2 linked regions of the Homo sapiens genome follow. The gene in region 1 interacts genetically with each later gene. Each region holds a gene or a part of one and is shown in the gene's direction. Other genes may lie near its edges.

What was found. Genes that interact genetically often act in the same process or in processes that back each other up.
Region 2: changes in PGD (region 1) and DLST together harm fitness more than expected from each alone (negative genetic interaction), as found in Homo sapiens cells (one large-scale study listed by BioGRID).

Annotation. Positions count from the first base shown.
Region 1 is NC_000001.11:10,418,476-10,421,101, forward strand, and holds the end of PGD (6-phosphogluconate dehydrogenase, decarboxylating), read left to right. Parts: intron 1-350; coding exon 351-450; intron 451-941; coding exon 942-1,064; intron 1,065-1,154; coding exon 1,155-1,274; 3' UTR 1,275-2,036; downstream 2,037-2,626. UniProt on the Homo sapiens protein: Catalyzes the oxidative decarboxylation of 6-phosphogluconate to ribulose 5-phosphate and CO(2), with concomitant reduction of NADP to NADPH.
Region 2 is NC_000014.9:74,888,364-74,892,015, forward strand, and holds part of DLST (dihydrolipoyllysine-residue succinyltransferase component of 2-oxoglutarate dehydrogenase complex, mitochondrial isoform 1 precursor), read left to right. Parts: intron 1-731; coding exon 732-784; intron 785-911; coding exon 912-986; intron 987-1,533; coding exon 1,534-1,589; intron 1,590-2,692; coding exon 2,693-2,804; coding exon of another isoform or gene 2,805-2,863; exon of another isoform or gene 2,864-3,652. UniProt on the Homo sapiens protein: Dihydrolipoamide succinyltransferase (E2) component of the 2-oxoglutarate dehydrogenase complex. The 2-oxoglutarate dehydrogenase complex catalyzes the overall conversion of 2-oxoglutarate to succinyl-CoA and CO(2).

The DNA of each region.
Region 1 (2,626 bases):
GTTAAGATTCATTGCATTTGGCCGGGCGCGGTGGCTCACACCTGTAATCCCAGCGTTTTGGGAGGCCGAGGCAGGCGGATCACGAGGTCAGGAGATCCAGACCATCCTGGCTAACACGGTGAAACCCTGTCTCTACTAAAAATACAAAAATTAGCCGGTTGTAGTGGTGCGTGCCTGTAATCCCAGCTACTGGCGAGGCTGAGGCAGGAGAATCGCTTGAACCTGGGAGGTGGAGGTTGCTGTGAGCTGAGATCGTGCCACTCCACTCCAGCCTGGTGACAAAGCGGGACTCCGTCTCAAAAAAAAAAAAAAAAAGACTCATTGCTTTTTTCCCCCCTTGATTATTTCAGTGTATTCCTAGGAAAGATAAAGGATGCATTTGATCGAAACCCGGAACTTCAGAACCTCCTACTGGACGACTTCTTTAAGTCAGCTGTTGAAAACTGCCAGGTATGTAGCCTAGGGCTGGTGCCATGGTTACTCTACCTCCCTGGGGCCATCAGTTGTGATGTTTGGTTTTTTGTTTTTTTTTTTTGGTTTTTTGTTTTTTTGAGACAGAGTCTCGCTCTGTCACCCAGGCTGGAGTACAGTGGCATGATCTTGGCTCACTGCAACCTCCGCCTCCTGGGTTCAAGCGATTCTCCTGCCCCAGCCTTCCTAAGTAGCTGGGACTACAGGTGTGCCAACATACCTGGCTAATTTTTTTTTTTTTTTTGTATTTTTAGTAGAGATGGGGTTTCACCATGTTGGCTAGACTGGTCTTGAACTCCTGACCTCGTGATCCGCCCACCTCAGCCTTCCAAAGTGCTGGGATGACAGGCGTGAGCCACCGCGCCTGGCCTAACCATCAGTTTTTCATTTACCCACATTGATATGAATGAAAATCTATCCGCGTCACCAGGGGCAGATCACTAATCTCTGGCCGTGCGTTTTGTGCTCAGGACTCCTGGCGGCGGGCAGTCAGCACTGGGGTCCAGGCTGGCATTCCCATGCCCTGTTTTACCACTGCCCTCTCCTTCTATGACGGGTACAGACATGAGATGCTTCCAGCCAGCCTCATCCAGGTAAGCCTGTGGAGCAGGGATTAACCTGGCTGGCCCCTCGGGGGCGTGCGCCATGGACTGTCCTGACCAACCTACTCTCTCGTTTCCTAGGCTCAGCGGGATTACTTCGGGGCTCACACCTATGAACTCTTGGCCAAACCAGGGCAGTTTATCCACACCAACTGGACAGGCCATGGTGGCACCGTGTCATCCTCGTCATACAATGCCTGATCATGCTGCTCCTGTCACCCTCCACGATTCCACAGACCAGGACATTCCATGTGCCTCATGGCACTGCCACCTGGCCCTTTGCCCTATTTTCTGTTCAGTTTTTTAAAAGTGTTGTAAGAGACTCCTGAGGAAGACACACAGTTTATTTGTAAAGTAGCTCTGTGAGAGCCACCATGCCCTCTGCCCTTGCCTCTTGGGACTGACCAGGAGCTGCTCATGTGCGTGAGAGTGGGAACCATCTCCTTGCGGCAGTGGCTTCCGCGTGCCCCGTGTGCTGGTGCGGTTCCCATCACGCAGACAGGAAGGGTGTTTGCGCACTCTGATCAACTGGAACCTCTGTATCATGCGGCTGAATTCCCTTTTTCCTTTACTCAATAAAAGCTACATCAGACTGATGCTCTTTCTCCAGATTCTTAGTCTCACCTCGGCCACATGGAGCCATTATCCCCATTGGCAGAAAGATTTTTCTTTAAAAAAAAAGACTAGAATAACACAAGAAACCACATTTAGGATTATGCTTCACTCAGAGGAGGCAGGCAGGGAGGACACACCAGGGGCTTTAATACACTGGGCATGTTTTCTTTCTCCAATTGGGCAATGGGTACATGGACGTTCACTGTAACGTGCTTTTTCTTTCGTCTTTTTTTTTTTTTTTTTTTTTTTTGCTCCTGGCAAGCTGTGCGTGACATTCTTTATGGCTTTTTGTATGTCAAATACTTCATACTAAACTTTCTAGAGAATTAAACTTTAATGATGGGCTCAGCTTGGTCTGATTTATTTCCTTTCCCACACCTGTCTCTACTTGCTCTAAGCCAGGCCCAGGGATTTTGAACAAGCTAAGCCGGCTCCTTAAACTAGGCTTTTCACTTTATCTTACTTACTCAGAGAAGATAAAACCTGCCAGTGATATTGTTGTGTGGCCTGGGGCCAGTGTGACTGTTCCCTGCAGCGGTTTGACTTCATGATGATTTCCCTGGAGTGTTAAAGTCCTAAGAGTTGCCTAAGAGGAGCGAGCAGCGCCTGTGCCTCGACAGCTGGTGTCTACAGTGTGACCTCTGACCTCTCGGCTAATGTCAGTGAAGGAGACAATTTTCATTAAATCACCAACTTTTAATTTATTTTTCTTTTTTTTGAGACAGAGTCTCGCTCTGTCACCCAGGCTGGAGTGCAGTGGCGTGGTCTTGGCTCATTGCAAGCTCCACCTCCCGGGTTCACACCATTCTCCCACCTCAGCCTCCAGAGTAGCTGGGACTACAGGTGCCCGCCACCACTCCTGGCTTATTTTTTTGTATTTTTAGTAGAGACGGGGTTTCACCATGTTGGTCAGGATGGTCTTGATCTCCTGACCTTGT
Region 2 (3,652 bases), on another chromosome or scaffold:
TCTTGAGGGCAGAAATTCCATTATACCTTGCACAATGGCTTGTACCCTGGGCAGGCCGTAAATCTATCTCGGATTTAGTTAAGGAAGAGACCTGGCTGGACATGGTGACTCACTCCTGTAATCCCAGCACTTTGGGTAGGATCTTTGAGACCCGTCTGGGCAATGAAATCCATAGTCTACAAAAAGTAATTTAAAAAAATTATCTGGGTGGCATGTGCCTGTAGTCCCAGCTACCCGGGAGGCAGAGGTGGGAGGATCCCTTAAATCCAGGAGTTTGAGGTTACAGTGAACTATTATCATGCTACTGCACTCTAGCCTGGGTGACAGAGCAAGACTCTTATCTCTTAAAAAACAAAAAACCAAATCAAGAAGCTAAGTCATTTCGGTCTGCAAAGGACCAAGGTGCTTATTTTTTTATTGAAAGAGCCAAATGTAAGTCTGTTTTGTGAGAGTTGGCATTGCATTGCAGCACAGGGGCCTGAGCATACTTGGGGAGCTCACCATTTAAGGTACCTGGGTCGTTAGGCTCTACTCCAGACCTGCTGAGTCAGAATCCCTGGGGGAGAGGCCTAGACAAGTGAACTTTGAAAAAGTTCCTCCCCAAGTGACACTGATGGACACCCCTGGTCAAGAGTCACTGTTTAAGGGGAAGGTGACCCATGGGGCCTTAACTAGACTAAAATGTGAGTGGTTCGCCTGTTAAAAGGAGTTAACGTGTGTTTCTTTTGTAGCATTAACAACAGTGTCTTCAGTGTTCGCTTTTTCAGAACTACAGCTGTATGCAGTAAGTACCTGCTTTCTTGGGAATGGAATTTTATGGGAAGAGCAACAATTGATTGAGTTTAATTAAAGAAAAATATTAAAAAGGAAAAATGAACTACTTATGATTTTCTTTTTTGCATTTTTCCTAGAGGATGACTTGGTTACAGTCAAAACCCCAGCGTTTGCAGAATCTGTCACAGAGGGAGATGTCAGGTGGGAGAAAGGTAAGATTTAGTTTCCTATTTTTTTTTTTTTTTTTTTTGAGACAGAGTCTTGCTCTGTTCCCAGCCTGGAGTGCAGTGGTATGATCTCGGCTCACTGCAGCCTCTGCCTCCCAGGTTCAAGTGATTCTCCTGCCTCAGCCTCCCGAATAGCTGGGATTACAGGTGCCCACCACCATGCCTGGCTAAGTTTTTTGTATTTTTAGTAGAGACAGGGTTTCACCATGTTGGTCAGGCTGGTCTCAAACTCCTGACCTCAGGTGATCTGCCCACCTCAGCCTGCCACAAAGTGTTGGGATTACAGGCCTGAGCCACTGCGTGAGCCACTGCGCCTGGCTCCTCTCACTTCTTAAGTTTAAGTGCTATCTAAAATTCTCCCCTCCCCTCAGGATAGTTGTAGAATTTATAGCTCTGCCGTTTTCTTTACATATGTACTTTCTGCTGGCCCTGTAGGAAAGGGTTCTTATAACATACCTGCCAAAATGGGTTTTGTGGCTACTGGAGGCTCCCCGCTAACAGGTAGCCTTGTAGCCTTTGATTGTCTTTTCAGCTGTTGGAGACACAGTTGCAGAAGATGAAGTGGTTTGTGAGATTGAAACTGACAAGGTAGGCTTATCTTATATTCGTACCAGCTTTTCATGGGCTTCCCTTAGTTAACCTAATGAAAGAAACAGGGACTTAACCATTGTTTAGAGATAATTTTTAACTAGCTCTAACTTCAGTTGTAAAATTATTGGATTTGTTCAATTTAAAAAAAAAACAACTTTTTACATTTAACTTTTTTTTTTTTTTTTTTTTTTTGAGACAGACTTGCTCTGTTGCCCAGGCTGGAGTGCAATGGCCTGATCTCAGCTCACTGCAACCTCCACCTCCTGGGTTCAAGCGATTCTCCTGCCTCAGCCTCCCTAGTATCTGGGCTTACAGGCGCATGCCACAACGCCGGGCTAATTTTTGTATTTTTTGTAGAGACAGGTGTTGCCAGGCTGGTCTCAAACTCTTGACCTCAGGTGATCTGCCCGCCTTGGCCTCCCAAAGTGTTGGGATTAGAGGCATGAGCCACCGCACCTGACCTGCATTTAACTTTAAATTGTTTGCTGTGTGTGTACTATGTACTTCATTTAGTAGCTTTAGTCTTGTAGTGTGTGGTGAGGGGGTGGGGAGGGTAAATAAGCTGTTTCCACTTTTTCCTGTATCACTTGGAAACATATTAACTGAATATTGCCTGAATGTTTCTGAGAAAGGACAGAAAGTGAATCTTCACAGTAGCGATGACTTGTTATCACCCTTGCTCTGAAATTATGGCCTTAGATGTTTGTGTGCAAGGCCTTATATATTGTGTTGCAACTCTTGTTACTCACTGGAGATACGCTGTTGTTGTTGTTGTTTTGAGACGTTTCGCTCTATCACCCAGGCTGGAGTGCAGTGGCACGATATCGGCTCCACCTGCCAGGTTCAAGCGATTCTCGTGCCTCAGCCTCCCAAGTAGCTGGGATTACATTTTTGTAGTTTTTAGTAGAGATGGGGTTTCACCATGTTGGCCAGGCTGGTCTTGAACTCCTGACCTCAAGTGATCCGCCTGCCTTGGCATCCCAATATGCTGGGACTACAGGCATGAGCCACTGTGCCTGGCTTCATTGGAGATTCTATACAGCTAATTTTCTAATGCTGGATAAACATTTGGACTTCCTCCATCTGTCTTCCTCTTCCAGACATCTGTGCAGGTTCCATCACCAGCAAATGGCGTGATTGAAGCTCTTTTGGTACCTGATGGGGGAAAAGTCGAAGGAGGCACTCCACTTTTCACACTCAGGAAAACTGGTGGTAAAGAAGTTCTCCTGGTGGTCAAGGTCTCCAGTGTTCCCTCTTGGGATTGGGACTGAGCATAATGTGCTAATTCCCCGATATGTCAAAGACTCTTGTCATTCCAGCTGCCCTTAGTTGAGGGAATAAGGGGTAAATTTATATATAGTGTGAACTTCAAATGTCAAATTCTAAAAGAAAAGTGTATTTTTTAAAAAATAAACCTTATACTCTGTTCTTTCCATGGGTGTTTCTTAGCAGGAGCTGAGAAACTGGACCTTTTCTTATAGATATACAGATTGAGCATACCTAATCTGAAAATTCAAAATCTGAAATGCTCCAAAACTGAAAATCCAAAATCTGAAATGCTTCAAAACTTTTTGAGCACTGACAGAATGCTCAAAGGAAATGCTCATTGTCTTTTATGGGGAATTCAGTGTTGTTTCTTTTCACATCTGTTCTCTCATATCTCTAGGAAGGGTTGGTATTTCTTTTGGGAAGAAATGAGAAACGAATTTGTACTGGACCTGATAGGATTAGAGATTAATAACTTTATCTGACTCTTAGTTAAATTTTATAACCACTAAAAAGTCTATTTCTTTTTCCTAAGCGAGAATCGTACCCGTAGACCAACGAGTCACAGAAGTCTATTTCTTTTTCACTGTTACACTAATAAGGCAGATAGACCGCATGATTGAGGTTAGTCAGGCAAGACCAGAAGCTCAGAGTAGAAAACATGTATGGTAGAAGGCTGGGAAATAAGGTAGTCCTCCTGTTGCAGAAGTTTGTCTTAGCACTAACCCTGGATATAATGTCCAGATGGGTGAAAAACAGAAACAAACATTTCATTTAAAGTTGTGAGATTATTA